Linked DNA regions of Homo sapiens. The protein of the gene in region 4 interacts with the protein of the main gene of each other region in a biochemical or structural test. Each region holds a gene or a part of one and is shown on either strand. Other genes may lie near its edges.

Evidence for each region.
Region 1: the proteins of CDC27 (region 4) and ID2 form a complex in vitro, tested with the Homo sapiens proteins (one study listed by BioGRID).
Region 2: the proteins of CDC27 (region 4) and ANAPC1 form a complex in vitro, tested with the Homo sapiens proteins (one study listed by BioGRID).
Region 3: the proteins of CDC27 (region 4) and HSF2 form a complex in vitro, tested with the Homo sapiens proteins (one study listed by BioGRID).

The regions. Positions count from the first base shown.
Region 1 is NC_000002.12:8,677,704-8,685,553, reverse strand, and holds ID2 (DNA-binding protein inhibitor ID-2), read right to left. Parts: upstream 3,499-7,850; 5' UTR 3,389-3,498; coding exon 3,041-3,388; intron 2,712-3,040; coding exon 2,655-2,711; 3' UTR 2,648-2,654; intron 1,870-2,647; 3' UTR 1,093-1,869; downstream 1-1,092. UniProt on the Homo sapiens protein: Transcriptional regulator (lacking a basic DNA binding domain) which negatively regulates the basic helix-loop-helix (bHLH) transcription factors by forming heterodimers and inhibiting their DNA binding and transcriptional activity.
Region 2 is NC_000002.12:111,873,827-111,881,919, reverse strand, and holds part of ANAPC1 (anaphase-promoting complex subunit 1), read left to right. Parts: intron 1-1,070; 5' UTR 1,071-1,094; coding exon 1,095-1,307; exon of another isoform or gene 1,308-1,427; intron 1,428-2,948; coding exon 2,949-3,110; intron 3,111-8,093. UniProt on the Homo sapiens protein: Component of the anaphase promoting complex/cyclosome (APC/C), a cell cycle-regulated E3 ubiquitin ligase that controls progression through mitosis and the G1 phase of the cell cycle.
Region 3 is NC_000006.12:122,409,380-122,417,472, forward strand, and holds part of HSF2 (heat shock factor protein 2), read left to right. Parts: intron 1-2,993; coding exon 2,994-3,102; intron 3,103-3,257; coding exon 3,258-3,385; intron 3,386-4,145; coding exon 4,146-4,270; intron 4,271-6,841; coding exon 6,842-6,917; intron 6,918-8,093. UniProt on the Homo sapiens protein: DNA-binding protein that specifically binds heat shock promoter elements (HSE) and activates transcription. In higher eukaryotes, HSF is unable to bind to the HSE unless the cells are heat shocked.
Region 4 is NC_000017.11:47,136,855-47,144,947, forward strand, and holds part of CDC27 (cell division cycle protein 27 homolog), read right to left. Parts: intron 7,129-8,093; coding exon 7,029-7,128; intron 5,583-7,028; coding exon 5,375-5,582; intron 5,172-5,374; coding exon 4,999-5,171; intron 2,038-4,998; coding exon 1,885-2,037; intron 507-1,884; coding exon 298-506; intron 292-297; exon of another isoform or gene 1-291. UniProt on the Homo sapiens protein: Component of the anaphase promoting complex/cyclosome (APC/C), a cell cycle-regulated E3 ubiquitin ligase that controls progression through mitosis and the G1 phase of the cell cycle.

The DNA.
Region 1 (7,850 bases), on a different chromosome or scaffold from region 4:
GCCAGGTCCGCGGGTAGCCTGCGACGGGGAAGACGCCCCTACGGCCCTCAGGGCTTCCTCCGGGTATGATGATCAACCACACGACCGCCCCGCGCTGGCCCCGGCAGAGCCCAGTCCCCGGCGCGGGTCCGCAGGGCGATCCGGGCGGCCGCGGCTCCACGGCCCCCGCCCTCCTCCAGCGCCAGCGCCCGCGGGGAGCGATCGGGGGTCAGGGCGGGGAGACGCGCGGACTCCTCGGTGGCGCCGCCCGAACACCTGTTCCGCCCCAGGTGAGCTGCTGCCCCGCCCGGATCCCTTCCTCCCCCGGTTCGCGTCCACCTGGGACCCGCCTTCCAGAGCCTCCCAGCCCACCTCGCGCCCCGGGACTGAAAACGCAGACCAGTCTTGAGCACGTGGCCACCCGCGGTCTTTGGCTGGGAAAGGCTTCTGCCCGCTGCCTCTTCCTTCCAGTCCAGGGCGGCAGTCAAGGCTGAGGGCGATCGAAAAGTCCGGGAAAATGCGCCCGGCCCAGCCCCGTCTCCGGAGGCCCGGAGGTGGGTGGGGTGTGGCGGGGGGGCTACAGGTGTGGACGCAGGCGAAGCCAAGGAGGCCTCAGGAGCCCGGGGCCAGGTGACAGCTTAGTTCCCTGTGCAAACAGTAACCCTCGGGTGTTTCTGCCTTCCCTTAAACCTGAAATCATGTTCTGAATTCTGTACAGCCTCTTTTCTTCTCCTGATTAACTTTCATTTACTCCAGAGAAGCGTCTTAACGCCCACTCAGACAGGTAGTGCTTCCACACTCCCAGACTCAACTCATTCTTGGCTTTAAACTCAGCCCTGAGGCACAGAACCAAGCTTTCTCTTAAGGACTCGAGGCACTTCTGTGCTCAAAGCCTCCCCAGTCCCTGTCAACTCAGCCCTCTGCCTTACCACACATCTGATAAGATTCTCTGTACACAAGTAAAAGCTTCAGGGGTGCTGCTGGTGGGGGGATGAAGGAGAAGGGGATAAAGAAAACAATGTGTGTGTGTGTGTGTGGGGGGGGGGGCCGAGAGGGGGAGACAGGGAGAGAAAAGAGCTAGTGAATGCCAGAGATCTTAAAAACCACTCGGAATTCAGGTATTGACTTCAGACATGTTTTATTATAATCTTATACAGTCTACATAAATTTGAACTTGTATTTATTTGGGTTCAGTTATAACATAGCATAATAAAAATCAAAGCACTGGTCCTCTGAAATAAAGCAGGCAATCACCATTCAATAAACACACTTGATTTATTTTGTATAAAAGGGTTAAGTTTACAACTAAACTTTTATAAAAAGTTTAGCATGAATAAGTACATCATTACACTTTTGAATGCAGAAATAGACATCTCTGCCACTATACAAGAAAACTCTAATTAAAGAGTTCACAAGGTTTCACTCAAATAGATATATTTATATATAAATATATACACAGCATTCAGTAGGCTTGTGTCAAAAAGGTAATTTCTGACCAAAAGACTTCATTTAAGTGACTGAATACTGGATCCTTCTGGTATTCACGCTCCACCTTTGAAAAAAGGCAAAGTCTGCTTAGATTGGGCAATTCCTTGTGATTTTAACGTTTTCGCTCCCCATGGTGGGAATAGTATATAAAGAAAACCTTCCAACTGCAGAAAGGGCATTTAAAAGTCTTTTTCATAAATAACGAATATCACAGTCCAAGTAAGAGAACACCCTGGGAAGATGATCATTCTTAGTTTTCCTTCCATTTTTTTTTTCTTTTTAAAAAGGTCCATTCAACTTGTCCTCCTTGTGAAATGGTTGAAAAATAAGTTCAGCACTTAAAAGATTCCGTGAATTTGTTGTTGTTGTTGTTGTGCAAAGAATAAAAGAAATCATGAACACCTGCGAAAGAGTGGGGGAGAAAGGCATGTTTAAGAGAATGTAACCTAAGGGCAGAGGCGGGCGACTGGCGCCGGGAGGAAGCCACAGTTTGAACATTTAACCAAACACTCAAAGATTGGGCAAACCCTGGCGTCCAGATGCAACACACACACTCGCCTCGACAGCGCAAATTAAACATTAAAATAGCAGAGACTCAAGGGAAAAACTTCCCAACCCAATCTCCTATTTGGATCTCCAACAGCAGTGCTACAGGCGCCAGTCTGCTTCTCGTAACAATTATTTGATTGAAAACAGCCCTTTAGTTAACAGATAGGGAAGTCTGGGATCCCACATCACAGGGTTGAAGGCACAGGGTAGCAATCCTCAACTAGCCCAGAGAATCCCAGAGGACTATAGTTTTAGGGAAGGAGGATCACTATGGAATTTGTGGCGGTAAGATTAATTACAGTGGAGGTTAGTACCTCATAGTACCAGAGGACTCGTAGGAAGATCCAGGGCATTACATTTGCTACAAAGCCAATACACACGTTCCTCGGCCGCCTTCGTAGTAAGTTATTGGCATCATTTCCTTTTAAAGGAAAATGTTCTGTGATCTCGAGCACCCAAAGCTACAAGCTCCTTCATGTCTAGTGAGACAATGTAGTACGGGTAACACCGCGAAGTAAGCATGCATTTACCAAATCAGACATTTTATAGATACACAAGCAAAAACACATGCGCGCGCGCGCACACACACCGAGGGGCAGTTTACCCACGGGTGGCACAAGCAAACACTCACCGCTTATTCAGCCACACAGTGCTTTGCTGTCATTTGACATTAACTCAGAAGGGAATTCAGAAGCCTGGAAAGAAAGAGGATAAAGAGTACGAGGTTAAGACAATGTTAAGTAGAAAGGGTTTTTTTTTTTTTTTTTTTTTTTTTGTAGTCCACAGACCAGCAAGTTCCATTAAACACGTTTATGGTAACAATTCAGATTTAAAGACAGACGCATTAACATGTCAGAACTTACTAGCAATTTCACGCACAGCTCAATCTACAGCAGATTCTGAAGAAAATAAAGTTAAATAGCTCATACGAAAGTCACCGTCTGGGCTACGGATCTCCTAGTGACAGCCCAGACGACCGCGGGAGTGTGCGGCGGCGGGGCGGGGACCCCGGAGCAGGTCTTACCTGCAAGGACAGGATGCTGATATCCGTGTTGAGGGTGGTCAGCGGCGTCCTGGACGCCTGGTTCTGCCCGGGTCTCTGGTGATGCAGGCTGACAATAGTGGGATGCGAGTCCAGGGCGATCTGCAGGTCCAAGATGTAGTCGATGACGTGCTGCAGGATTTCCATCTTGCTCACCTTCTTGTTCTGGGGGATGCTGGGCACCAGCTCCTTGAGCTTGGAGTAGCAGTCGTTCATGTTGTATAGCAGGCTCATCGGGTCGTCCACAGGGGTTTTGCTCCGGGAGATGCCCAGGCTGTGGTCCGACAGGCTGTTTTTCCTAACGGACCTCACGGGACTGAAGGCTTTCATGCTGACCGCGAGGGAAGGCGAGACCGGGAGGGAGCTGGCTGCCCTGAAGCTCAGGCCGCCGCTGCCGCCTGCTGAGCTAGCTGCGCTTGGCACCGGGCTCGGCTCAGAATGAAGCCCGAGCCCGGCGGGGCGGCTTTTATCCGCACTCGCCGGGGCCACACGCTGGAGCTTCCCTTCGTCCCCATTGGCGGAAGGTGGCACGTCTATCAAGACGAGCGGGCGCTTCCATTGGTGGGCGCGGGCGCGGGGCGTGGGCTTGGTTCTTCCGCGTTCGCAGCCAATCCCCGCGGGGTGGGCGGGGCGCGAGCCCAGCTGGGGTGGTAAATAGAGTACAGTACAGTAAGTGCGGGGCTGGCGGGGGGCGGGGGGCGGGGAGCGGCGGGCGGGGGGCGGGGAGGAGGGAGGCGGGAGGAGGGAGAGGAGGAGGGAGGAGGAAGAGAAGGGAAGATGGGGGAGGGGAAGGGGGAGGGGAAGGGGGAGGGGAAGGAGGAGGGAGAAGGGGGCAGACCCTGGGCGCCTAAATATGCATTCTTAATTCTAATTCCAAGCGCGCGGCGGGACCCTTGCCCTGGGGGTGTTCCCAGACCAAGCCCTACACACCTTAGAGCTGTCGGCAGCTCTAAAATCACAGCTACACGGGCGAGTTCAGCACCGCAGGGGGGAAGCCACAGTTCACTGCAACCCATCGGAGGGAGAGCGTGAGGAAAGATAGAAAGCATTTCAGAAGAAAGTGAAAACGCAAATTAGGTTGTCACTGAAGAGTCACGTTTGTAGAGTGAGTTCGTCTCTTCAGATAAGGAAAAGTTATGTTAACACAAACAAACCACCCACGCACGCATTCGACGACAGGCTTAGTGTGGGCTTTTGCAACCCGGAGCAGCGCGGGAGGCATTACTGTAAACTCAAGAAAATGAGTACTTATTGCAAACCATGCCCAACCTCACCGGTCGCTAAGGAGCTCTCACAGGCAGGGCGCTTTCAGGGTTCCTTTTCAAGAAGGAGGCAGGGCTATTATAATGATCGTATTAATCGGAAATAATTAGGAGAATTTGCATATTGAAACTACATTTACATACACTGCCCTTGAAAGGCTGCCGGTCTGTGCCCTTCCGTGTAGGTGGCAAAGTAATGTGATTAATTATGCACTAATTGTGATTTCTGGTGTCACATTCCAACACCTAGAGGAGTTCCAAAGCTTTGTGACAGATAGGTGGCCCTAGCCATTGATAGACATCTTCACACTAAGGAAAAAAAAATATTCTGTCATATGAGGTTTGGAATCTTTTCAGCACTAGTACTGAATACGGGTTCAAGGTTTTTTTTTTTTTTTTTGGCTGAAAATCTTTTAAGAACTCGTTCTTTCAGTCTAAGTTTTAAAAAGTTTGCAGCTATTTACTTAAATACCTTAATTTTCACATAATTGTAGCTTATCTAGAATTCTGTTTTGACCACAGTGTGTCAGTTTCTTGTTTTTGAAAATATTTGCTCCAGAAAACAATGAACTAGAAAACTCCAGGAAAGGCAATATTCAAATCTTATTTACTTTCTGCCTCAATCTCTACCTCCTTTGCATTTCAGAAAGCGGAAGGGGCAGGCCTAGAAGCTGAAAGAAAAGCTCGATAATGGGGAAACAGTGTTTTTTCCTTCAATTAATGATTAATTTCTCAGCTGGTGGGGCCAGCAGTCTCTGACCGTCACGTGACAGCTATGCGCCCCATGACGCCTCTCCAGGGAGGCAGAGTGGGTGGCACTGAGGTGGAGCTCACCTTCCTGAAATTCAGCCCCCTCAGTTTGGAGGAAGGAGGTAAACTGTTTCCTGTCCAGCCAGAAGTTTGCGGAGGGCCTTCCCCAGGCCAGGCAATGCTGCCTGCGACTCTGTCCCTGACAGCGTTGGATGCACCGTATCTCTTCTGATATTAAGTCTGGAAGTGATTTACTATCCGAGTCCTCCCACAGTTCGAGCCTTTTGATGTACTTTGTGTGCATGTGTTTCTGTCACATACGTGCCACAGTGGAACAGATTTTGTTTTGACACTATTTTGGTTCATGATGTTATACTTTGACTATTTTACAATAATAGCCAATGTAAACAAACATCTTTGGGATTCTCAAATTATTACTTATGATTCTTGGACATTGCAGCTCTTCGATACTGACGCATTCCTAGCTTTTTCCAAGGACACCGTATGTTAACATCCGTGCCAGCCTCATTATCCCCACAGCCAGGCTCTGGGTTGGGCGGTAATGAGCATTGTGCGGTTTCACTTTACACTTTGCAAAGTTGATTAAGGCAGTGCCTTCTCCCATGATCATTTTTGTACCCTGATGTAGTAAAATGGCTAAATATGGTGAAAGTTTTCTGGTGTTTCTTTCTTTAGCTGCCATGTCAGAGTCCAGTCTGCCTGGCTGTGTTGAATTCGATTCTATTGGCACGCTACCCAGTTTTACATTCATTTAAAGATCATTTAAAGGGGATTACGAAGCTGTATAAGTTAATGATTTAAACGAGGCCTAAGTTACTAGTGTGTCTGTTTCAGCACGCCCAATATGAAATCACCTTAAAAATTGCTTTCGTGGGGGAAAATCGTGTCGGAGCATTTTCCAAGTGGGTTTAAAGGCAAGTCAAAATCTGTCAATTGGTGGCTTGGGTGGGTTTGCATTTGAGGCCTCCAAAGTTCAAACGGCCCCAGCTAGAGGGAGGGCTAGATCCGCGGGCGGTGGGAAGGTGTGCAGGGCTTCCGCTGGTGGGTGTTGGTGCGGTTCCCCTCGACTCCCCACCGGGACGCCCCCACCCCGTGGCAGCGACAGACCGGCCCGTAAGGTCCCCCAGCCTGGCTCCAGGACTCACTCACTCCGCCTCTAGGGCAGGCCCCGCGGCGGCTCTCGCGTCCGGGCCCCTCGCGGTAATCAGAAGCAGCTCCGGGCCGGGAGCTCCGCGCTGGCCAGGCCGCCTTTGCCACCCCCGCGTGATGCGCCGGGGGGCGGGAGGAGCCTGCGGGGGCGGGGGGCGCGTCTCAAGGTCCTCCCTGCACATCTGGCGCAATGGGGAGCGTTCGCCTTTCTTTCCCGGGTTTTGTTCTCACAGCTGTGTCCATTCCGCCCGTGACCCCGCGAGTGATCCCTGACAGGTGATGAATTGGCGGCGGCGGTGGCGGCGGCGGCGGCGCGCGGGCCAGGCCGCGGCGGGGCCGGAGCCGGAGCCCCGGAGCAGACTCTCTGGCGCCAGGCGCGTGACGCCGCCCATTCACGCCGCCCTGCAGCCTTGTCCTCGCGGCGCCGCTCAGGCGGCTGCCATGGCAACCGCGCCGTCACTCAGCGCGCGCGCCCAGCTGATCAATGCCTGCGAGGCCCGGCAGTCCCAGGCTCGCCCAGGCCCGGCCGCCGGCCCGCGCGCACCTGCAGACGCTGCACGTCTTAAGTTTCGAGTGATTTGGGGAAGGAAAGAGGACCGAGAAGAAAAGAAAAGGGCTCGGGGGGGGGGGGGGGTGGGCGGGTGAGGGGCGGAGGAGAGGACGAAGGAAAAAAGCCGGGAGAGGGAGAAGAAAGAAATCTTCCTTTTGCAAAAGGAGGCATAATGTGGCTTAGAGGTTGCCAAAGCAAAAGGTTTTGCTTTATTTTGTTTTTGCAACCGAGGCGTTCAGGGTGGGGCTGGCGCGAGGGAAGGGTGGATGGGGAGAAGGTCACTGTCTTAGCACATGGCGAGATTTATTTACTCCTTTGGATTATTTCGGTTTCTCGCCGAATGGCTTTGATCCTGGATTCCTAAAAATACCTTTGAAAGATTGAAAGACTCGCCCCGCCCCCCCAACCTCCACACCGTCTTACTGCCTAACTCCTCGGAACCCTCGGAGGTTGCGCATAAACAATTTTTTCTTCCAGAACGGCCCCCCTCTCCGCCCTGGGGGAGCCGGGAGGATGTGCAGCCCCAGTCCTCCTGCTCGGCGGAGCCTCGCGCGCGCAGAGCCTAGCGCGATTCGCGCCCTCATTACTACTACAAAGCGCGGGCCAGACCAATCCCCTTTCTAATGCACCATTTTCGACTGAGAACATCAAGAGGCCAGAAACTTCCAAGTCAGCTTGCAGACGCAGACGCCTCCTGGGGTCCTGGCTTTAAGAACCAGATGCCAACACTCCCGGACAGTTTATGGCATCCGGATCCCTCAAGGGTGCTCATCTGCAGTTGAGAGTGTTAGTAGCAATTATTTATCTGTCCTGGAGAGGAGTTCCTGAACATAAATGTCCTCTGCTGGCCCTAAAGCTGGGGGCGGAGGCTGTGTGTTGTGGGGTGGGGGTTGGGGGGCCGAATGTTCCCGGTCCTGTTATCTGGTTTAGCAGCATTTGTTGTGGTTTTCGAGGAAACGGCATTTGGATTACATAAGGATTCAAGTTTTTGCTGTACTTGTTTATTTAATACCTTGGCAAGAGGGAGCCCTTACCCTGAAACCAGATAACCGATTTTGGG
Region 2 (8,093 bases), on a different chromosome or scaffold from region 4:
AGCCACCGCACCCGGTCCAGAGGTTTTAAAGAGAGGGTAGTGGGTTAAGGTATTGATTGGTCAGAGAATGAAGGATGAAGTCATAGGACAGAGAGATAAACCACATTCTCATGCTAATGTGGTTCCTTGATGGGGTCTTAAGACTAGCTTGCATCATCTCAAAAGTCTTAGGCTCCTAACATTAAAAATGCTGTCTATAGGAACATGGTATATATAAACAGGTACAGGAAAGTGGATCGAAGGACAATCTAATTATGCTTATCTGTACTTTTGTCTAAAGCCTGGCTGCTACCTAACCTTGTGATGAAGGCTTTAACAGTTCATCCACATTTTTTTAGTAATAAACTGTACTGTAATAGATTAATAATTAGATTAATTAGATGTAATAATTAATTAAAACCTAGTACCCTTAAATCTGCAAGCATAACTGTTCCATGGCTAGAGTTATTCATGCCTCGGTTCTTTGGGTTTCGACCAATAATTGAAATTGATTGTAGTTATATATTTAGGTGGGATTGGGGGTGTCACAGCTACTTAAGACATTTGAAAACCTATGTCTTTTGTAGATTGGTCAGCTGAAAGCAGTTCAACCTCTGATGAATTAGAGTAATGTGTGGTTTTTTATTGTTTTATTCCAATATGACAATGATCCCTTAGATGTACTTTTCAAATGAGGTTCTGGCATCTAACCAGAAATGACCTTAAATGTTGAAAAGCCATGTAGTTATGGGACCATAGAATACAACTTGTCTAAATACTTCATATATAAAGTATGGAAAAATTAGCGTATAGTAGTGGGAAACACGGGATAGGTGGTGCGGGACATAAGTACTTGTTGCATCTCAGTGGTTTCCTATAGTGGTAACTGTCAGTCTGTGACTAAAATGTGATAATTGCAACTGTCTGAATCAGATCTAGAATGCCCTTTTATGTTATGACCAACTTATATACTTACCAGTCTGATATAATTACTTGACACCCATGTAAGGATTAATGACTTGTGTGTTTATGGTATTTTTATTCTAGTTTTGAGTCTGGAAGCTGACCAGAATGTGTTTGAATTCATACAGAAATAATGTTGATATTTGGAACCCATGTCGAACTTCTATGAAGAAAGGACAACGATGATTGCAGCAAGGGATTTGCAGGAATTTGTTCCTTTTGGTCGAGACCACTGCAAGCACCACCCTAATGCTTTGAACCTTCAACTTCGCCAGCTGCAGCCAGCTTCTGAATTATGGTCTTCTGATGGTGCTGCTGGCTTGGTGGGATCCCTTCAGGAGGTTACAATCCACGAGAAACAGAAGGTTCCATTGAGTTTCCCATTGTGTTTTTGAAATGTAGAGTGATATAATCTACTTGTAATTTAAGGCTACTAAGATGCAACTGAGAGATCGGTGTGATGCCACTTCTAGAGTAGAGTTAAGGTGTGGTAATTTCAATAAATGTTGAAAATAATGACTTTATTACATTGTCATAGCGACTTATTTAGATACCCTCTATAACTTGTGGTTTTATTTATTTTTTATTTTTCAATTTTTTTGTTTGAGATGAAGTTTTGCTCTTTTTGCCCGGGCTGGAGTGCACTGGTGCGATCTTGGCTCACCGCAACCTCTGCCTCCCGGGTTCAAGTGATTCTCCTGCTTCAGCCTCCCGAGTAGCTGGGATTACAGGCATGCACCACCACCCCTACTAATTTTGTATTTTTAGTAGTGATGGGGTTTCTCCATGTTGGTCAGGCTGATCTTGAACTCCGGACCTCAGGTGATCCACCCGCCTCGGCCTCCCAAAGTGCTGCGTTTACAGGCGTGAGCCACTGTGCCCGGCCAACTTGTGGTGTTATAATGTGAGTCAGGTTCAGTAGTATGATTGTTGTCCATTTTAAACCTTTTTCTTTTCACTTAATATGTGGGGACCAGATTTCATGTTATCTAATGATTAAATGGTAGAGATTAGAAGTAGTCCCTGCTGCAGAAGATTTACATGTTTCTAAAGGAGAGAAGAAATGCCACAAAAGTAGGTAGAGTAATAGCTTTTTTTTTTTCCTGAGACGGAGTTTCACTTTTGTTGCCCAGGCTGGAGTGCAATGGCACAATCTCAGCTCACCGCAACCTCTGCCTCCTGGATTCAAGTGATTCTCCTGCCTCAGCCTCCCGAGTAGCTGAGATTACAGGCATGTGCCACCACGCCCAGCTAATTTTGTATTTTTTTAGTAGAGGCGGGATTTCTCCATGTTGGTCAGGCTAGTCTCAAACTCCAGACCTCAGGTGATCCACCTGCCACGGCTTCCCAAAGTGCTGGGATTACAGGCGTGAGCCACCACACCCGGCGAGTAATAGTTCTTAAGTAGAGGAATGAGATGTTAAGTGTGTGTCAGAAAATGAATCCCTCCTGCCTTATTCCATTGTCATATCCCTTTGGGATACTAAAATCTCGGGGAGGGAAAGCCTATGTAGTTACAAATGGAAACTTCTCTTTCTTCCATTCATTTTGGTGGGTGGGACAAAGGAAAAGAAGGTGAATATATATGTGATTGCGAAGCAGGAAGTCTGCATTTGTGTGTGAACTCCCCAAGTGATTCCCACGTGCACCTCACTGTCCTTTCCCTACCCTACCTCATATACTTAATATGTCCTTTTAGTCTCCCAAGCATGTGATTTGACTTTTGGAACTATAGAGAAGGTGTACTTTTTGTTCGTTTTTGTTTTTGGCAGAGTAATATAGAGGAATAATATAAAACATTCAATATAGAGAATTATTGAGTAAATTCTTCATGTAATTCTGTAGTGTAATGCATATATCCACATCCTCCGTTAATCAGTGTACCAAACTTTGTAGGAGTTGTGTTTGAATTGAGTCTTACTCCATGGGCAAATAAATTTTGTTCCAGATTTTTGAAGAACAAAAAAAGAGTGCTTGAATATGTTTTACATGTGTTAATTTTTAAGGAAAGCTGGCAGTTAAGGAAAGGAGTAAGTGAAATTGGAGAAGATGTGGACTATGATGAGGAACTCTATGTTGCTGGAAATATGGTGATATGGAGCAAAGGAAGTAAAAGCCAGGCATTGGCAGTTTATAAAGCATTTACAGTTGACAGTCCTGTTCAGCAGGTGAGTTGATTTGAATTTTAGCATTTGATTCACTATTTAATGCAATTAAAAAAAAGTTTTGTTTTAAAATTTAACAGAAATGATAAAACCAGCCTAATGATCTCAGCAGCTGGGTGTACGTTGTAACATGACATAATATAATGTGAAGATAATGGCAGGAAAATAAAAATTTAATTTTATTTTTATATCATCACTTTTTTTACACTCTTCTTTGTCACTTTAATGGTAATCTTTAAACACTCTGTCCTTATGTAATTCAATTTGTTATTGCCAGCAAAAACCTATAAAACATGAAGAGTACAGAAATATTTTAACACATGATTACTATAATTGATTGCAAAGATTTGAATAAATAAAAATCGTGGGATTCATAATGGTAGAGAGAAAGGAAAAAATCTGCTTTGCAGCCATTGCAGTTGGCTGTTATAACTAACTGTTCTGAAAGTTGATAATGAAAGGGAAAGAATTAAGCATTTGCCATATTTTTTCAGGAAGACATGCAGTTCATCTCCATTTGATGAAGGAAAACTTGTACTTAGAGAAGAATGCTAGCTAATAAGTGTAAAAGGAATTGTAGAATTAGAATATCACCATTTTGTAACCTCCAGTGCAATAATTGATTCCAACAAGGATTGTAAATGGATACTAACACTGTTGGTTGAAAGAATATTACCATGGCACCAACACATCACCCTGTGGATTACCTGGTAAATGTGAAGGAACAAATGTACCTCTACTTTGGAGTTATTTGTCAGTCTCCACCTCAATCAAGTGATTGAGTTTAGCATAATTAGTAGTGACATGAAGGAGTATTATGTGCTTCTAGCTATAATACAGAATGAAGTACATGATGTCATCTAAGTTTTCTTCCCAAAAATATGAATATTTAGACCTAACTTCCTATTTATAGGAAATATAGGCAATAGAGAATTATATTTTAAAATACCATGAGATAAGGAAATAGATAGCTAGGAATGGCTAAAGCTTTATTATTATTATTATTGTTTATTTATTTATTTGTTTTTTGAGATGGAGTCTTGCTCTGTCACCCAGGCTGGAGTGCAGTGGCATGATCTCAGCTCACTGCAAGCTCTGCCTCCCAGGTTCATGCCATTCTCCCGCCTCACCCTCCCGAGTAGCTGGGACTGCAGTTGCCCGCCACCACACCCGGCTAATTTTGTTTTTATATTTTTAGTAGAGCTGGGGTTTCACTGTGTTAGCCAGGATGGTCTCGATCTCCTGACCTTGTGATCTACCCACCCACCTCGGCCTCCCAAAGTGCTGGGATTACAGGCGTGAGCCATCATGCCCAGCCAAGCTTGATAATTATTAAAACTGGCTGATGGGGATTCATTATCCTATTCTGTTTACTTTGTATTTATTTGAAATTTTCCATTATAAAAAGTTTATAGTCTACATTCTGGTTTCTTTAAAAAAGTCACGGAGAAAGAAAAAAAGGTGGGGACTGTTCTACATTGAAAGAGACTAAAGAGACATCACCAAATGCAGTATTTTTTGATCCTTGTTAAATGAACTTTGATTGAGTCCTGGTTTTCTAGCTAAAAAGATATTTTTGGGGAAAATTTGGGAAAGTTGAAAATTACTGGCCAGTAGCTGATGTTAGAGAAGTATTATTTTTTTCTCAGGGACGATGATTTTATGGTTTTATAGGAGAACATCTTTATTTTTAGAAAAGGCATGGTGAAGTATTTAGGGGTGAAATGTCATGATGTGTGTGCAATTTATTTTTAAACAGTCAGCATTCCCATTCCGAAAATCCCATATGTACACAAATGCACACACACAAACAAATATGGCAAAATTTTCATGATTGTTGGATATAGGTGAAATATGTTTGCTGCATTATTTCAACTTTTCTTACTGAAAATTTTTATAACAAAAAGTTGGAGGAAGAACTAATGCATTTATTGTAGTTGAATTAGGGTTGACGAGGTTTTGGAGGCTTTGACTAATGTTAAGTTTCATTTTTGTAAATGCTGAAATCTTTGTATCTGGATACTGCTTCCTCCCACTCCTCCCGCCTACCGTTAACTATTTCCTGATGAGTACTGTATTCTATTTATTGGAAAGGATAAACTGAATCATTATTCCAACATTTGAGGGCATATGTGAAAGCATTTGTGTCCTGGAGTGTTGAAGCCAGTGATCTTTTTGATGGTAAATTTTTTCCCATATAATTCATATAGTTAGTATAGATGTGAAAAGTGCATTTGATGATATCCAAGTAGTTCTTTGCTTCTATATCTTCATCTTAATTTCTCCAAGAACAGTTGCCTATTTACTAGATTCTATGGAAGTGCAGTTAGATATATTATCTCCTTTATCTTAAGATCACTTGTAAGTGTAATTGTAAGATTTGGAATTTCAGTCTTTTGATCTGGAAAATATATTGTTACTTAATCTTCTTGCTAATATGGAGAAAGATAATTTTCTATTTTGTTTATGAAATAATATCAGGTATATGTGACTCAGATTTTATCTGTTCATTGTTTTACCTATCCTGCAAGTATTTTTTTTTTGGTTGTTCTTTTTATTTTTTCATTTATTCTTTTTGTTTTTTAATAGAGATGGGGGTCTCACTATGTTGTCCAGGCTGGTCTTGAACCCCTGGGCTCTAGTGATCCTCCTGGCTTGGCCTCCTAAAGTGTTGAGATTACAGGCGTGAGCCACTGTGCCTGGTCTTCTGCAAGTATTTAGTCTCACTCTGTTTCAGCCATTATGCTGGGGCTACAAAGGTGAATGTAGTTTCTGCCATTGAAGGACTCATAGCCTAGAAAGGAGAACAAACAGATCACCTGAAATGCTGTATTCTGAATGCTGTATAATAACTACCTGTCCACAGAGTGATGAGAGCCCAAAGGACTGAGTGCCAAAGGGAGGGTTTTTCAAAGAAGATGCTATTTGTGTTATAAAATGGTGGCAGAAGGGCATTCTAGGCAGAGGAAATCACAGCAAAAAGAATTATGGAAAAAGATGACTTTTTAAACTTCAGAATGGCTGTACACGAAGTGTGGGTGTGGAGAGATGCAAGTGGATGCTGGCAGTATACAGACCAAAGGGCCTTGTATATAAACCAAGGAATTTGGATTTTAAACTGTGTGCTGAAGGGAGCCTGCCAAGGATTTTAAAATGGAAGCGATCAATTTTGTGTTTTGAGAAGAGATTGCTTTGTTAGCAATATATATATAGGATTGACTGGAGAGGAGGGAGACTGTTGTCAGGGGCACTATTTTGTGACTGTTCAGGTAAAAGATTGGTGCCTTGGCAAAGAAGGGGTGATAAAGCAGAGGGAGATGTGGAAGGGGTTAGTGATCTCTTAGATATCAGGGATAAAAGAGATGTTAAAATATTTACTTTTAGAGGCTGAGAGGATGGGATTTCATCAAAGGAAGTTGAGACTGTAATCGGTGCATTGTAGATTTTGGACATTTCAGGTTGGAGCACAGCTCTCATGCATGGTTTTCTTCCTGAATTTTCATTTCTTAACCATTAAAATCTCCCACAACTCAACAATAAAACAAACTACCCAATTAAAAAATTGGGCAGAAGGACTTAAATGGACATTTTTCTAAAGATGCACACATGGTCAGTAAGCACATGAAAAGATGCTCAGCTTCGCTAATCATTAGGCAAATGCAGATTACAACCACAATGAGATACCACTTTACTAGGTTGGCTGTTATTAAAGAAACATAACAAATGTTGGTGAGGATGTCCAGAAATTGGAACTCCTGTGCATTGCTGATGGGAATGTAACATAGCTGCTGTGGAAAAGTTTGGCGATTTCTCAAAAAGTTACACGTGTAGCCAGGCATGGTGGTGCATGCCTGTACTCCCAAGCTGTTCAGGAGACTGAGGCAGGGGGGTCATGTGAACCCAGGAGTTCTAGGCTGCTGCGAGCTAGAATCATGCCTTGCATTGCAGTTTGGGTGACAGAGTGAGACCCCATCTCTTGAAAGAAAAGTTATACTTAGAATTACCATTATGATCCAGCAGTTCCAGTTCTAGGTATATGCACAATTGAATTGAGAACAGGGATTCACAGATACTTGTACACCAGTGTTTTCAGCAGCATTATTTATGATAGCCAAAAGGTAGAAACAACCCATGTCCATTGACAGATGAATGGATAAACAAATGTGGTATATGCTAACAGTGGAATATTGTTTAGCTTTAAAAAGGGATAAAATTCTGATACATGTCATAACATGGATGAACCTTGAAAACATTATGTTAAGTGAAATAAAATAGATATAAAAGGACAAATGTACAGTTTCACTTACATGAGATACCTAGCACAGGCCCTTTCATAGGGAAAGTGGAATAGAGGTTACCAGAGCTCAGGGCATTGGGAAATGGGGAGTATTGTTTAATGGGCACGGAGTTTCTGTTTGAGATGAGGAAAAAGTTCTGGAAATGTGCAGTATTGTACAAGCTCACAAATTGTACTAAGCTCGTCAATTTAATGTTAATGCTACTGAATTGTCTACTTAAAAATTGTTAAAATGTTAATTTTCATATTGTGTGTATTTGACCACAGTTTAAAAAAAAACACAAAATGCTGTTAAATAATAAGTGATTGCCAGGTATGTCAGTTAAAGTTTAATAGCTTTTCCTAGTTTATATTTTGTAAGATGGGCTTTTAAGAAAGGGAGGAGTTAGTTTTTCTAAAGACTTTTTCAAAAGTCAGTCTAGAGAGAGTCTAAGATCAGTTGTTTAATCTGGAGATTATAAAGTTTGAATAATCTTTAGTTTTGTAGAGGATATAGGGTTTAGTATGGTTTGAGCTACTATTTGAATTTTTGCTGCAAAGTTTCTATCTGGTAGATTTTTTGATTCTTGTCTTCTCTTTTTGTAAAATTTATTTTTTTAATTTAAAATTTTAATTCCTATGGATCTTTTCATAAAATTTAATTGTAAACATATTTTGCCTTTCCTTATCATATTTATCATTTATTACTC
Region 3 (8,093 bases), on a different chromosome or scaffold from region 4:
TGAGGGAACCAAAAGCAGTTTTCAGTGAGAGTAAGTGGATGGTCCTGAATTGGAGAAGGGGGGTTTAAAATACCTGCTTGTTAAATTTTGCAGTTAAGGAAAAGACAGATGGGTAGATTGAAAAAGAAGGTATAAGAGGGAAAGTTCTTTTAAGATAGGAAAAGACGTATGCATTTTAAGCATTTTAATTTTGATAATTACCTAGTTGCCAATACTGGTTATTGTCAAGGGTTGTAAATTTAATCTAATAAGGGAAAATCATTATTTGTTTTGCTCTACATTCTTCATTTATGAGTCTGGGTCTCTTCTAAATTTCACAATGTGTTTTTCATCAAAATTGTGTTTCTGTTAGGAAGAAAGTAGAGGAGAGTAGAGATAGAGTAGGAAGCTAGCAGTCTCCATGGATAAATTTATATTTTATCTATATGTCTTCTGGGTTTATTATGTCATGTCTCCAAAAGCTTGCTTGTAAAGAGTAAGATGACATCGAGCTCTTATTTTTCTTCCCAAATGGAAAATTTCTTAATCCTTTTCTTTCCTGATTATCCCCCCATTTGAATGCCATCTTGACTTACTACCTGGTAAATTCTCAGATAGATTTGCTGGTTCATCTGTCCTCTCTAGTCAGTCCATTCATCTATGTAATCACTTCTTCTTTTGTACTAAATTGTTAACACTATAATTTTATAATCTGTATTGGGTAGGGTTAAAATACTCCTCCCCATTGTTCTCAATATTTTCTTTCCTGTTGTTATGTAATTATTTTTACAAATGAACTTATGTACCTAACATTTGGTTATGATAGCATCAATTCATCTTTACTCCACAAATCATTTTTTTAATTAAGACAGAATTTAATGTATTGGTTAATTTAGAGAGAATTGACACCTTTACAATACTGCATTTGTCTTCCTTTTGTATTTCTATAGTTTTAATATTTTTAAAGTTCCTGTATATTTTTAAATTTTATTTTTAGATACTTAACATTTTTCTATTATTATTGGGATATTTTATTCCATTTTAGTTTCTAATTTTTTTAATTGTGGTAAAATATACATAACATAAAATTAACCATTTTAAGTGCATTAAGTTAGATTCACATTGTTAGGCAACCATTACCACCATCCATCTCCAGAACAATTTTTATCTTTCCACACTGAAACTTTATACCCATTTCACAATAACTTCTAACTCCTTCCTCCCCGCAGCCCCTGACAACCACCATTCTACTTTTTGTCTCTGAAATTGGCTATTATGGAAACTTCATATAAGGGGAATTGTACAGTATTTGTTCTTTTGTGACTGGCTTATTTCACAGCATAATGTTTTCAAAGTTCTTTTCATGTTGTAGCTTGTGAGAATTTCCTTTTTTAGGTGAAATAATATTTCATTGCATGTATATACCATACTTTATCCATATATATTTCACCATGTGTTGGTGGATACTGAAGTTACTTCTACCTTTTGCCTGTTGTGAAAAATGCTACTGTGAACATGGGGTACAAATATCTGTTCAAGTCGTTGCTTTTATGGTTTTTTTTGTTTTGTTTTTTTGTTGTTGTTTTTGGGTTTTTTTTTTTTTTTTGAGTATATACCTAGGAATGGAATTGCTGGATTATATGTTCTTTGTTTAATTTTTAAAGGAACTATCATAGTGTTTTCCACAGCAACCACACTATTTTAACATTCCCACCAATAATGCACCAATATTCCAATTTCTCCACTTCCTTGTGAACACTTGTTTTATGCGTTTTTGATAATAGCCATTCTAATGGGTGTGCAGTGGTATATTGTTTTAGTTTTGATTTTCATTTCCCTAATGATTTGTGTTACTGACCATCTTTTTATTTGCTTATTGGAAGTTTGTATATCTTCTTTGAAGAAATATCTACTCACATCCTTGCTCGTTTTTTATCGGGTTGTTTGGGTTTTTTTTGTCTTTTGTTCTTTTTGAATTTTAAGAGTTATGTCTATGTTCTGGATATTAACTCCTGAGGTATATGATTTGCACTTTCTTCTTTCCATTCTGAGGGTTGCCTTTTCAGTCTGTTGGTAGTCTTTAGATTTGATGTAGTTCCATTTGTCTATTTTTGCTTTTGTTGCCTGTACTTTTAGTGTTACATTTAATAAATCATTGCCAAGTCTAATGTCATGCTCTACTATTGTTAAAAGTTTCTTTAGCTCTTGTGTTTAGGTCTTTGATTGATTTGAAGTTAGTTTTTATATATGTTATCAGATAAGGGTCTAACTTCATTTTTTTGTATGTAGATATCCAGTTTTCCCAGCACCATTTGTTGAAAAGACTGTCCTTTTTTTATTGAATGGTCTTGACACTGTTGTCAAAAATCCTTTGGCAGGGTTTATTTCTGGGCTGTCTATTTTATTTCATTGATCTATATGTTTGTCAGTATGCCAGTACCATGCTACTTTGATTACTTTATTTTTGTAGTGTTTCCAGGTGTTTGTTTTTTGTAGAGAAAAACACTAGTGACTTTTAATATTAATTTAGTAACCACGTATCTTACTGAATTCTTAAAGGGTTTTTAAATTGATTTTACAAAGATACAATTATGTCTACTATGTCTACTGCAAATAATTATAAAATGGTACTTCCTCTCAAAATCTTTTTTTTTTATTTTGGTCTTAATTGCACTAGTTTTAAAACAATGTTAATTATGCTGTCTACATAATTGTATTTCATTTTCTCATTGCTGGTTTAATGGAAGTTCTAATATTTCACCATAGAGTGTGATGTGGCATTTGGTTTGAGATATGTTCCTAAACTTTTGAGGTTGACATCAAAAAGCTTAGTTGCAATTTGTTGCTTAATTGCAATTTTGTTTCTTGTTCCTGTTGTCAAGAATAGAATGTTGGTCTGAAGACATCAAGGAGGGACTGGACTACTCAAGACAGTTGTGGGATGTATAAATATATCACCATGTGTCATAGGAACTTAACTAATTTACTTTTTCTTTTTTTTTTTCCCCTTGCAGAATGGCCAAAGTTTTCTGGTCTTGGATGAGCAACGATTTGCAAAAGAAATTCTTCCCAAATATTTCAAGCACAATAATATGGCAAGCTTTGTGAGGCAACTGAATATGTGTGAGTATGGACAGCAGTTTATTGGAGTACCATTATCAGCTACTGATGAAGCCATTTTTTTTCCCATTAGGGTGGTAAAGGAAAATTATTCCATACAAGCACCACCAAATTTTGACTTGTTTATTTTAGTCATTTGAATTTTGAATATTTTTCAGATGGTTTCCGTAAAGTAGTACATATCGACTCTGGAATTGTAAAGCAAGAAAGAGATGGTCCTGTAGAATTTCAGCATCCTTACTTCAAACAAGGACAGGATGACTTGTTGGAGAACATTAAAAGGAAGGTGAGCTATTGTGAACGTGAGCTAATTAGGGTATTGACCTGGAGTGTGCTTGGCCAAGATTTTTATTTCAGCTGTTGAAAGTACAGAAATGCACAACTGTTCCTTGTTGGGATGAATTAGGATAATAAAGTTTTACTTGTTTCCCTGTATTTTTTTCCTAAGTTAGCTTAAAAAAAAAAAAAAGTTTAAGTTCCTGCTAGAATATGAGCTCCCTGGAAGACTTTTTCTATAGTTTGTAATTGTACATCCAGTACCTACAATAAGTCTCTTCTAATAATATAAATATGCCCACATAGTAGGCATTCAGAAATACATTCAGTAATATATTTTTTAATGCATAATATCTTTTGGTAAAATAAGATATTTTACTAAATCTGTAAAAGGGGTGGACCATGAAAGAAAATGGCCTAGCATGAACCTTTTACTGCATAAATTTAATTAAATGTGGAATGTGGTAATAAAGAGGCTTGGGGGAAATTGCAAGGAGCTTGGCATAAGGGGAGAATAAAAGACTCTAAGATATTCCTGCTTGCGGAAACTTTTTAACATTAAAAAAAAATTTTTTTTAAGTAGATTATTCCTTGCGTTCTCTCCCATTGAGCTCTGAAGTTTATTCTTTCCCTAGCATTTCATCCCGGGCTTTTGGAACCAGATCTCACTTCCTGAACAGGCTACGAAAACCTCTTCTAATAGGGAAGCTTTGAATTACAATCATGGGTGTTTACTGTTTCTTTGATTTTCTAAATTTACTTTTTCAAAGGTTTCATCTTCAAAACCAGAAGAAAATAAAATTCGTCAGGAAGATTTAACAAAAATTATAAGTAGTGCTCAGAAGGTTCAGATAAAACAGGAAACTATTGAGTCCAGGCTTTCTGAATTAAAAAGGTAAAGTGTTATTTCCAAATATAATTTTAATCTGGGAATTGGGTATGTGTCTATGTGTGTTGAGTTTGGAGGTTGTCTGATGTTTTATTGTAAGTACTCAGATCACTTTGTTGAAGCCAAGATCAAAGGTCATTTTTCTGCAAGTATTGGTTCCCTTTACTTTGATTTGTGGCCACTGACTTTACTCTAATATTGTTTTAATTATGATAGTCAGAAGAAGATATAAACCTAAGCGTATCAAAACAGTTTGATGTATAAGTCTTAGCAATAAACAGTAGGTCTTTAAGATGATGTAGGAAATATGATTCTATTTAGGTTAGCTCATATGGTGCTCATAGACAATGAGGGCATACGACATAAAAACCCTGTATGTTACCCATCCTTTGTTTAATGGCTGTCTCTTAAGATTTCTTTGTGTGGACTCTTAGGAAAAAGTAGGACACAAAAAAATCGGAAAACGATGCAGGAGAGTTGCCATGCTTGATACTTATTTCGTATAGACTTGGAAAAGTGTTATTCAGAGCTTTTATCTACAGAAAGATGCTTCGTTTTATTTTACTACATTTCTTGGTTACCATTATTGTAACTTGCCATACTAATAACTTGTGTATAGAGTAGATAGTGTATTACTCTTCTTAGTAAGTAGCTGGAATTTTTCTGTATCCTAATAGGTGCCAAGGGCTTAAGAGTGGTTACTTTACATATTCTCTCTTCCATATCAGATGTGAGACGTTACTTTAGTTAATCATAACTCAAATATCTTCATTAAAAGAGGAACCTATAACTTTGATTTCTTTTTTAAATAAGCTTTAGGCTTTCTCTTCTTGTGTATTTAACAACTTGTTTACTGTATGTATCTTGTGTATACTAGCTGCTCTTTGACCCAGTTCCTTGGGACCACAGTTTCAGCCTTTAAAGAAAGTGATCCCCAAATCATTTTTTGTACCTTAGAGGGAACTTTCTTCTCCTTATCTTTTTGTTTGTTTGTTTTTGTTTTGAGACAGTCTCACTCTGTTACCCAGTCTGGAGTGCAGTGACTTGATCTTACCTCACTGCAATCTCCGCCTGCCGGTTCAAGCGATTCTTGTGCCTCAGCCTCCCTAGTAGCTGGGATTACAGGCATGTGCCAGCTAATTTTTGTATTTTTAGTAGAGATGGGGTTTCACTGTGTTGGCCAGGCTGTTCTCAAACTCCTGACCTCAAGTGATCCGCCCACATCGGCCTTTCAAAGTGCTGGAATTACAGGCACGAGCCACCGCACCCAGCCCTACTTATCTTTATTTAGTAAGCAGATAACAACATTTTTTAATTTGAATCAGAAAAATACAGTAGTTATTCAGTAAATATTAAAATCTCCTTTGGTATACCCTTATATGTAAATCTCCAGTTCCTTTTATATTAGTTTGGATTAAAGAAGATGACTTGTGGAGAATAACAAAAGATGGAAAATTAAAGCATTTAATAGGTATTCAGCATTCTCCGTGCTGCGAACATTTAACAACATAATGCAGTTTCAATTAAAAAAGGTGAACGAAGAAGAAGCTATTCATATTTGGCAAGTTATTAGTTTATTATTGGATATGCTTTTTCAGAATAACATTTTAGTGGTTTACATATGCTGTTGTTTGAGATAGATCTTAAGATAGTTTTAGAATCTGACAGACTTTAGTTTGATTTCAACACTTACCAAATTATTTGTATGATCTTGAGCAGTTCCCCTCAATTCTCTGTACCTCAGTGTCCTCATCTATAAAATAGAGATGATGACTTATTTCTTGGTGGTTTTTAGAGAAATTTTAAATAAGTAATACACATAAAATGTCTAGCATAGTGCTTAGAGTATAGTAAGTGCTGGGTATATATCACTACCCTTTATTTCCTAAGGTGATTAGGAAGGCCTGAATTCACTTGGTAACCACAGTTGAAAGATTAGCTTATTTTTTTTTAAGCAAAAAATAATGAGCCAGATTGTCAAAAGTAGTAAATTGCCAACTACTATATTGATGTAGGCATATGTCTTAAGTTTCTGTGTATCTATTGTCATGAGTAGCAGATACTACACTTAGGAAGGAATGATTCTGGTGCTGGGTGCGGTGGCTCATGCCTGTAATCGCAGCACTTTGGGAGGCCGAGGTGGGTGGATCACCTGAGGTCAGGAGTTTGAGATCAGCCTGGCCAACATGGCAAAACCCCGTTTCTACTAAAAATACAAAAAAAATTAGCTGGTTGTGGTGGCACATGCCTGTAATCCCAGCTACTTAGGAAGCTGAGGCACGAGAATTGCTTGAACCCTGGAGGTGAAGGTTGCAATGAGCCGAGATCGTACCACTGCACTTCAGCCTGGGCGACAGAGCAAAGCTACACCTTTTTTTTAAAAAAAGAATGATTCAGGAGTTGTGTCAAGGTAGTTGTCATTCCTATGTAATTGAACCAAAGTTTTCTTGGTCTCATAAATACATATAGTAAAAACAAGTGTAGTTCAGTTGTCTGGTATTCTTAATTAAAGATACTATGGTCTGGTTTTTTGATTGATTTTTTTTTTGTTTTGTTGCTTAATAAATTATAACATAGTGAGAATGAGTCCCTTTGGAAGGAGGTGTCAGAATTACGAGCAAAGCATGCACAACAGCAACAAGTTATTCGAAAGGTAAGAAGCTCTTTTCCCCAGGACCATAATTTGCATTTGTTTAATGAGTACTGTTTGTGACCCAAAAAGGTCTTTATTGAGTGTCTGTGATTGATCTTAGTTTCTTACATATTGGATGCACAGATAGAAGTAAAAAATGAAATGAAATTAAGCCAAGTGTTACACATTTTTAATAAAAAATTTCTCACTAGCTAAAGATGGTTATTCCATACTCGCAGATAATGTCTCAGTAGCTTTTAGTAAATGATCTTTTGCCTAATATAACAATTTTGAAATACTTTATTTTTATGAGCATAATGAATACACTACCAATTTCTTTTAAAATTAGAAAACATAGCCTTACTGGTTTTTTTTGTTGGTTTTTATTATAAAAGGCATAGTTAAGGTCTCAGAAGATAAATGACAAATATTTTCAAATCAGTTGACCAAATTATGAGTTCAGAAAATGATTTCTCAATGTATGCTGTTATTAGTCTGTGGAGAAAAGCAGTTAACATAGTGTTGTAAAATGAATTTTAGATTTTAGTATCTGAGCTGAAAATTTAATAGAGGAGTTGGAATCCCTCCGTTTCATTGTGTCCTTGTGATTTAATCTTTGCATATCAGCTTTCATTTGCTAATAAGAGATGAAACATAGTAATTAAGGCAGCTATTTTTTGCTCATGAGTAAACTAGACTCTGAGTTTAAGCAACAGGTTTTTTGAGGGGGAGCTTCTGATTGCTCCTGCTTAGAAGGCCCTTGAACTAAAAATAGGGTTGTGACTGACAGGATCAGGGTCTAATGGAGAAGGCTTTAAAGCAGAGATGAGTAGCAGTTGCAGCCTGTAGCCTAGTCAACATAGATTTACTGTGTTTTTTTTTTTTTTTAAAGTGTGCAAGTGAAGGTTGAATGTAGTAGAATTCAGTTCTAAGTGTTTAGTCCAAGTACATGTATTTTTAAAACTTTCATAGGCAACTCTAATGTGCAGCCTGGTTAAGAATAGTTGACTTAAAACAATAGATGTACCTTAACCTGTACTTTATGGAAACAGTCTGTTAATACTTTTCAGAAACAGTGTTTTGGTAATATATTAGCTTACAACACTCTATAATGTGTAGATTTTTTTTTTCCTGAAAGCAAGAATAGTTGATAAAATAGCTATGTGACATTTCAGTTTTTCATGAATGCTAACATTC
Region 4 (8,093 bases):
ACAAAGTAACAAAACTAAACAAACAAAAAACAACTACAGTATCTGCAAAAGTTTGGTAGAAGGCTGAAACTGTTGAGTATAAGGATCTGGTATTCTATTATCATTAGTTAATTTAAGAGTTTGTTAAAGACGTACATTTCATAAGAAAACATTTTAGTTAGAAGTTATTGACCAGTATGTACCATCCCTAAGTATAAGTAACCAAATTCATGATAATAAAGAGCTATCTAACAAGAAAAATTAGTAAGTACCAGCACCATCAATACGACTTTGTCTTTGTACTTCATTACCACTTACCATGCATTATAATGTCTAGGATTGACTCTGATAGCATTTCGAAAACAAGCTAATGCTTTGTCCAATTCTTCAGTTAAGACAAACTCATGCCCTAATAGAGTATAGGCATAAGCGTAATTTGGATCAACTTGGATAGCTCTCTGGAAGAATTTAATTGCAATATCATGTTCCCGTTGCAGACTGAAACAGTTCCCTGCAGCACACCAGGCCTTAAAAAAATGGGAACAAAAACCAAACAGAATTAAAATTTTACTTTTTCTAAAACCAAATCTATGACTAAAATCAAGCCTCAACTTAGAACAGAAAGACAAAAATGGAGGAGCTTCAGTAGATACTCAATTCTAATTATTCACAGATTCCATATTTGTGAATTTGTCTGATTGCTAAAATTTATTTGTAAAACCAAAATCAATACTTGCAGTGCTTTCATAGTCATCAAAAGGTATGTTCTCATTTGAGGTTGAATAATGTGACTCTACCTTCTTGTTTTAGCTCTCATGCAGAGATGACCAGGGACAGAAACTCTGTGGGCTAGTTTAGTGTAGTGCAAGAAGCTTTGGCTCTGGGGACAGTTGGACAGAATTTGAATCCCACTGCTGGCACTTTTAAGTAGGATGGCTTCAGGCAAGTCACCTCTGAACCTCATTCTCTCTCTTTTTTTTTTTTTGAGATCTGGTCTTGTTCTGTTGTCCGGGCTGGAGGGCAGTGGTGTGATCTTGGCTCAATGCAACCTCCGCCACCTAGGCTCAAGTGATCCTCCTGTCTCAGCCTCCCGAGCAGCTGGGACCACAGATGCCAGCCACCATACCTGGCTAATTTTTGTATTTTTTGTGGAGAAGGGTTTTGCCATGTTGCCGAGGCTGGTCTTGGAACTCCTGAGCTCAAGGAATCCGCCTGCCTCAGCCTCCCGAAGTGCTGGGATTATAGGTGTGAGCCACCACACCCAGCAGCATTCTCTCTTTTGTAAAGAAAATAGGATCTACCAGGATGAGTTATTTTTAGGATTCAAGATTATAATCCACAATCTATCTCTGTTTCAAACTCTCCATCACTCCCAGGAACATTGGTTCAGTAGCACTAATTCAGTGTTCATGTTGACTACAGAATTACCGCAAATAATGGGAGTTGACTGTGTTTAATTCTAAGCTTAGATATGTTACAAAAGTATCATTAAATATTTTTGAGATGCAATGAAATACAATCTTACAAGATTAGAGCATGTACATTAATTGCACCTATGTCTTACAATGACAATACTAATTTATTTTAATTTAAAATTATTAATTTTTTCAATCTATGTAACTTCTGCTCAACGAACCCTAATCTTGGTGACAACAGCAAATTTAACGTAGTCAAATCTCGATAAATCCTGAATGAAATAGCTGCTTTGTGATTTTTCTATTTGTGAATCTGCACCACACATTCTAGGACTTTCTCTTCCTCTCTGAGTCCCTGACTAGAGAGAGAGGAAAAAAAAGAAATAAGCGTGGGTGACACTAAATAGTGTTTGAATTGCTTGGTTCATCTCTATCTGTTGAGGGTGATCAAAAAGGTAACTATATAAGCAAAGTATTTTGGTTAACATACCTCTGGCGAATTTTTATCCATGTCTGTTAAGTCTTTTGACAGAACTGAAAGAGCAACATCTTTTTGAAGATGCCAAAGTGTTGTAGAGTAGATCTCCATGCCTTCAACTCTATAATTCTCAATCCTTCTAACCTCTGAGAATATTCTTTCAGCCTGAAATAAAAAAAACTAGTAAGAGAAAACAAGTTGATACAATTTATATATATACACAGGGAAAGCCCTGGTCATTATCTTCACAGGATCTAAATGCTGCCTTGTATTATGGTTTTTATGTGAATGAGTATTAACACAAGGACAAATTCAGCAATCTACTATGGCAGGTCAAATAGTGATGTAACCATATTGACAGTCAACCTAGTATTTATATACAAGCCATGGTAAGAACATGAACTCTGAAAAGGAAATTTGAGTTTCTACCAAAAAGACCGAAGAGAAATCTATACAAAGCTACAATTCAAAAGAAAAGTCAATATTTCCTTCTCAAAAACCTCATTTCCAAGTTTTAATAATGGCATTACAGAATAACTCTTTTTTTTTTTTTTTTTTGAGATGGAGTCTCACTCTGTCGCCCAGGCTGGAGTGCAGTGGCGCAATCTCGGCTCACTGCAAGCTCCGCCTCCCGAGTTCACGCCCTTCTCCTGCCTCAGCCTCCCAAGCAGCTGGGACTACAGGCGCCTGCCACCACACCTGGCTAATTTTTTGTATTTTTTAGTAGAGACAGGGTTTCACCATGTTAGCCAGGATGGTCTCGATCTCCTGACCTTGTGATCCACCCGCCTCGGCCTCCCAAAGTGCTGGGATTACAGGCATGAGCCACCACACCTGGCCAGAATAACTCTTTTAGGAAAGATGATGGAAGAATGATTTCTGTAACATAAAATCTATTTTTGAACAATTTTTACCGAGAGGTTGTGCCAGAAAATTTAGAGGGAAGAAACAGGTTAAGCTGGCTATCAATCCTATGGTTATAAATCCTATTGAGCCCTGAATATACACACCAATATTGTGTCTGCTAGGAATCATAGGCCCTACCTATTAATTATCCTTTCCTTTGCAGCACTCTCTTGACTTCAGGGTCTCTCCTCAGCTGCCTCATCAATTTTTTTCCTCATCACATTCACAGCTCCCAGAACTGTGTTTCTCTCCCTCTAAAGTTTGAGGATTTAGGTTATATAAAATCAGTTTCCTAGTTTATCAATTTACCAAGTTCAAAATTCTCAGCTGCCAGAAAAGGTCTAGGTAATAAAAAAAAAAAGAAAGGAAAAGAAATTTTCACAGTTTAGTTTATAATAAGGAATATCTGGACTATTCTTAATGAAATGAGTATGACAGAAAATAAGAGCATTTTAAAACTGAGTGCTTAATTCCAAGAAGTGGTCATATGATATATAGGAATAGCTTAACGATTTGTAACTTCCTTGCAATCTCTTAAAAGTTATAAAGGTAAGTGTGCAGCCTTGACCTGCAGGGCTCAAGTGATCCTTCCACTTCAGCCTCCCAAGTAGCTGGGACCACAGGTGAGTGCCACCACACCCAGCTAATTTTTTCATTTTTTTGTAGAGACAGGGTCTCACCACATTGGCCAGGTTGGTCTCCAACTCCTGAGCTCAAGTGATCCCCCTTCCTTGGCCTCCCAAAGTGCTGGTATTATAGGCATGAGCCACCACACCTGGCCAAGTTTTTCATTCAGGCATGGTAACAAGATAAAAGACCTACCAGCCAAATATAGGTAGGTACCTTTTGGTTTCAAAGTTTTCAGAATCTGTTGCTTCCTCTGAAAAATGATTATGGCATAGACAAAAAGAAAAATGGGAAAAAAACTCAGAAATTAAGTTGAAACAGAGGCTTTCTTTAATTAAATATTTGGGTCACCACTATAACTAGGGGAAACAATAAAATTCATTTATGTTAAAGTAGCTGTGAAACAATAAATTAGAAATAATTTTTTAAATGGCTTTTCCGAACACAGCTCTTGCCTGTCTGTGTATATGCTACATACCAGTAAAGGACCATAATCGAAACATGGGTTTTGTAGCAATGAATAAGACTTTCTGTCTTCAACTCTCTGTTCTGTACTATTCAAAATTAAATTATATGAATAGGTATCCTCTGTATGTATTCCCTGTGGGAAAGAACACCTTTCCCCTAGATCTTTGCATGGATCATGAAGGGAAGAGTAACCTTCCCTCTGAGTACATAAAAACAAAAACACCATACTTCATTGTCTCCCAGTTTCCTCACCATGCTTCATTTTTCTTCATGACTTATTGCTACCTGTTCTTATACATTTATTGGCTTATAATCTGTCTGTTGCTAGAATGTAAGCTCCACAGAGGCAAGAAATTGTCTGACTAGCTGTAATACAGAGTCTAGAAGAGAGTCCAGGATATCATATGCACAGAGATATATATTGAATAAATGAACTGAAAGCAAATTAAGCAAAAAACGAATCATATCAACTTTAATCCATATTAGAGATATTTTATTAATATATAGGTTTCTAAAAGGTTTCTTTTTTTAAGTTGGGGGTGGAGAAAATGCTTTGGGAAGAACTAAGGGGTAATATAAATTGGGAATTAGAATTTTCTTTGGCTTTAGGTTAATCATTCTCTCCTTTTCTGGTATAGACAGATAACTTAAGCAACAAATTTAATTAAAATCCAAAGAGTAAAAAGCCTTGTATTAAAGACATTGTGTCCTCAATTCAGCACAATTTTCTTTATAGCATTCTTCAAGCTTATAAAACATATTCGATGTCAAAAATTCACCCCAGTAATTAACTCTGTATATTGCAGAAAAATAAATAAATCCTATTACATGGTAAATATAAATATGTATTTTCAGACACAACTGAATAGGACACACTCTACGTAAGAATGTCTGGATGACTTGGGTCTCTATAAACCTATTCCGAGAAGTTGCAAAGAATTTAAATTACTCCTTAACACAAGAAAGAACTATATCTATAAATTATAAATACTGACAAAATAAATATATAGACATTACATAATAAATACTGATCTTTTAGATCTAGCCTTCTTAAGCATGGGCATTTATTTTAATGAAATTGAAATTATCTCTAGAAAGGCATATATAACCATTTTCTATACTTACTTGCATGTACTCTGAAAGTTCAAAATAGGCCCTTCCAATTTGGCACAGTACCCAACCAGTATTGTAGTGGTGAGAAGGTAGATGGCTCAAAATATTTATAGCTTCTTTGCAGTTGTATGAACACAAAGCTAAATAACCTTTCCCCATTTCACGAAGAAGGCTCATCAAACCTTCTAGGAGAAAACAACATAGTAAACAAAGGAAAAAACGCAATAAACTAGTCTGCTTCTCTAGAAAAGGTAATTACAAACTAATCTATTAAAAATTCCAACATCTATATAAAAAACAATGAAGGTACTGTAATGAACATAAAGAAATTTACTTAAAATAAGTACATAATAAAATACAAAGATAATATTAAGCATTTAAAACAGACCTGCTGCTGCTTTTTGTAGATTAAAGGCCTGAATCTGAGGTGTGATTGTGGATATTTTCCCTTCTGAAATGATGGAAGAGTCCAATTTTGTAATTTCCAGGCTATCATTTATGTTAGGTTGAGTTATTCCTCCTTTATTAGTTTTACTTTTTGTTTTTCTGTTTGGGATTTTAGGTGGAAACTTCATTTTTAATTTTTTGCTATTCTCCTGTAAAAGGGAAGAAATTTCACACCTGTTATACTCATGTATTTTAGATTTCTCCTCAGCCCTTTCTCCAGTATTAGATATAAAATAAATGTACAATCTTGATTAATTCTATATTTTTTTCAGAAGAGAGTTTATAAAAACAAAGGTCTTCAAAGTCATTTAATTTTAAACACAGTAATTCTGAACATAAATTACATTAACTAATAGTGACTAAGGTGTGTCAGCATTAAGTGTAGCCCTCTTGTGAAAGTATATCAAACTCTCATTTATTATTTAAAAGTAAGAAAATAAGTAGATGTAATTCTCAGCTCACCGCAACCCAACCTCTGCCTCCCGGGTTCAAGCGATTCTCCTGCTTCAGCCTCCCGCGTAACTGAGATTACAGGCATGAGCCACCACGCCCGGTTAATTTTTATTTTGGAAGAGACTGGATTTCTCCACGTTGGTCAGGCTGGTCTCGAACTCCTGACCTTAGGTGATCTGCCTGCCTTGGCCTCCCAAAGTGCTGGGATTACAGGCATGAGCCACCGTGCCCGGCCTTTGTTTTGTTTTTGGGACAGGATCTTATTCTGTTGCCCGTGCTGGAGTGTAATGATGTAATCAGAGCTCACCACAGCCTTGACCTCCCCAGGCTCAAGTGATTCTCCCACCACAGCCTCCCAAGCAGCTGGGATCAAAGAGTACTACCATCCCAGCTAATTTTTTTTTTCAGAGATGGGGTCTTGCTATGTTGACCAGGCTGGTCTCAAACTCCTAAGCTCAAGTGATCGGCCCACCTTGGCCTCCCAAAGTGCTAGGATTACAGGCGTGAGCCACTGCGTCCGCCGGGTCTCCAGTTTTTTTTAACTTTTATTTTCAAATAATTTTAGACTCACTCTTCTGCAAATGATAACATGTGACATAACCATAGTATATCATCATACCCAGGAAACTGAAATTAGTACAATATTATCAGCTAAAGACCTTACATGGATTTCATCAGTTTTTATATAAACCCGTGTGTGTGTATGTGTGTGCATAGTTCTATAAAATTTTATCACGTGAATGGATCTGTGTAATCAACCACCACAATCAGGATACAGGACTGTTGTACCACCACAATGCAATTCTTTTGTGCCATGATTTAATAGTAACATCCTCCCTAGAGGCCTAACTCCTAATAATCACTGATCTGTTGTCCATTCCTATAATTTTGCCATTTCAAGATTATTCCTATGTCATTTTTAACTTGAGAAAAAAAATTTTTTAATTAAAAAAGAATATTATATAATATTTACCAAAGGACTAATTAACTTCACAAAAATCATAGATGGCCCTCTAAATTAAAACATTTTAAAATTCGAAATAGTCTCTTTGTTAACTTATTAGGAATGGAGTCATCAATGAACAGAAATGTTAGCAGGCGAAGCATTAAGTAAATGTGACATACAGAAATCTTTAAATTACCTTGGTTGTGGAGCTGTCACTAGTAAAGAGTCGTGAACTTCTTCGAGGCAGTGCGTTTGGGGGAGATGTAATAGTGGGGCTCAATACCTGAGGTGTTGTACTAAAAAAAAATTATAAAGGAAGACATTAATATTTTACTTGATTTATGACCATTAACCATTGTTTCAATTTGGGTATATTTTAAAAATATACATTAATTATATAAGTACTCTAAAGTTGATGAATTTGATCAGTTCTTTTCGTGGTTTCTCTATGAAAACACAGTATTTAAAAATGAGGGACTCGGACTGGCTTTCCTGCTTCTCAGCTTGCAGATGGCCTCTTGTGGGACTTCACCTTGTGATCATAAGTCAATAATCCTTAATAAACTTTCCTTCATATAAAAAAATAAAAATAAAATGACTCGTTACTACAAAATAGTAAAGATTATAGCATAGATCTTCACTCTCTCTGAAATTCTTAATTTGAACTAAAAATAATCCTCATAAAACTCTGGATCGACAAATGATAAGCACATCTATAAATCAATTATTTTTACCCTTCATTTGCAACTACAACAAGTTAGAGAAAAAAGAAAAGACAGTTGGGCAAAGATAGTCTAAATGTGGGGTATTTGTTAACAAGTAAATACCACTAGAACTACTAATATTTGAGAAGTTATTTCCCTGTAAATTCAAACAGCTATATCAAAGGCTTATTCTCTTTAGAGCGAAAGGAGCCTCTGTACATTTTTACTTTAAAGGCAAACCCTGAGATATGAGAATTTCAATCTTAGCAAGCAAACTTAAAATCTGAAACAATCTAGAATTGACAGTGGGTAAACTTGTGGACTAAACTATCTAAACTTTATAATTTATGGGAAATCCTACTAGCTACCTGAGTCTGGGTCAAAGAATTTCAGAAAATAAAAAGATATATATTTTCATCTTTTACGATATGTACATATGTAATATGTACAGATACCTCTGTATATGCATGTGTGTGTATATCACACACACACACACACACACATAAATCCTTTTAATCTGCATCTGATAAACTAGGAGTTTGATAACGAAAGGCTTC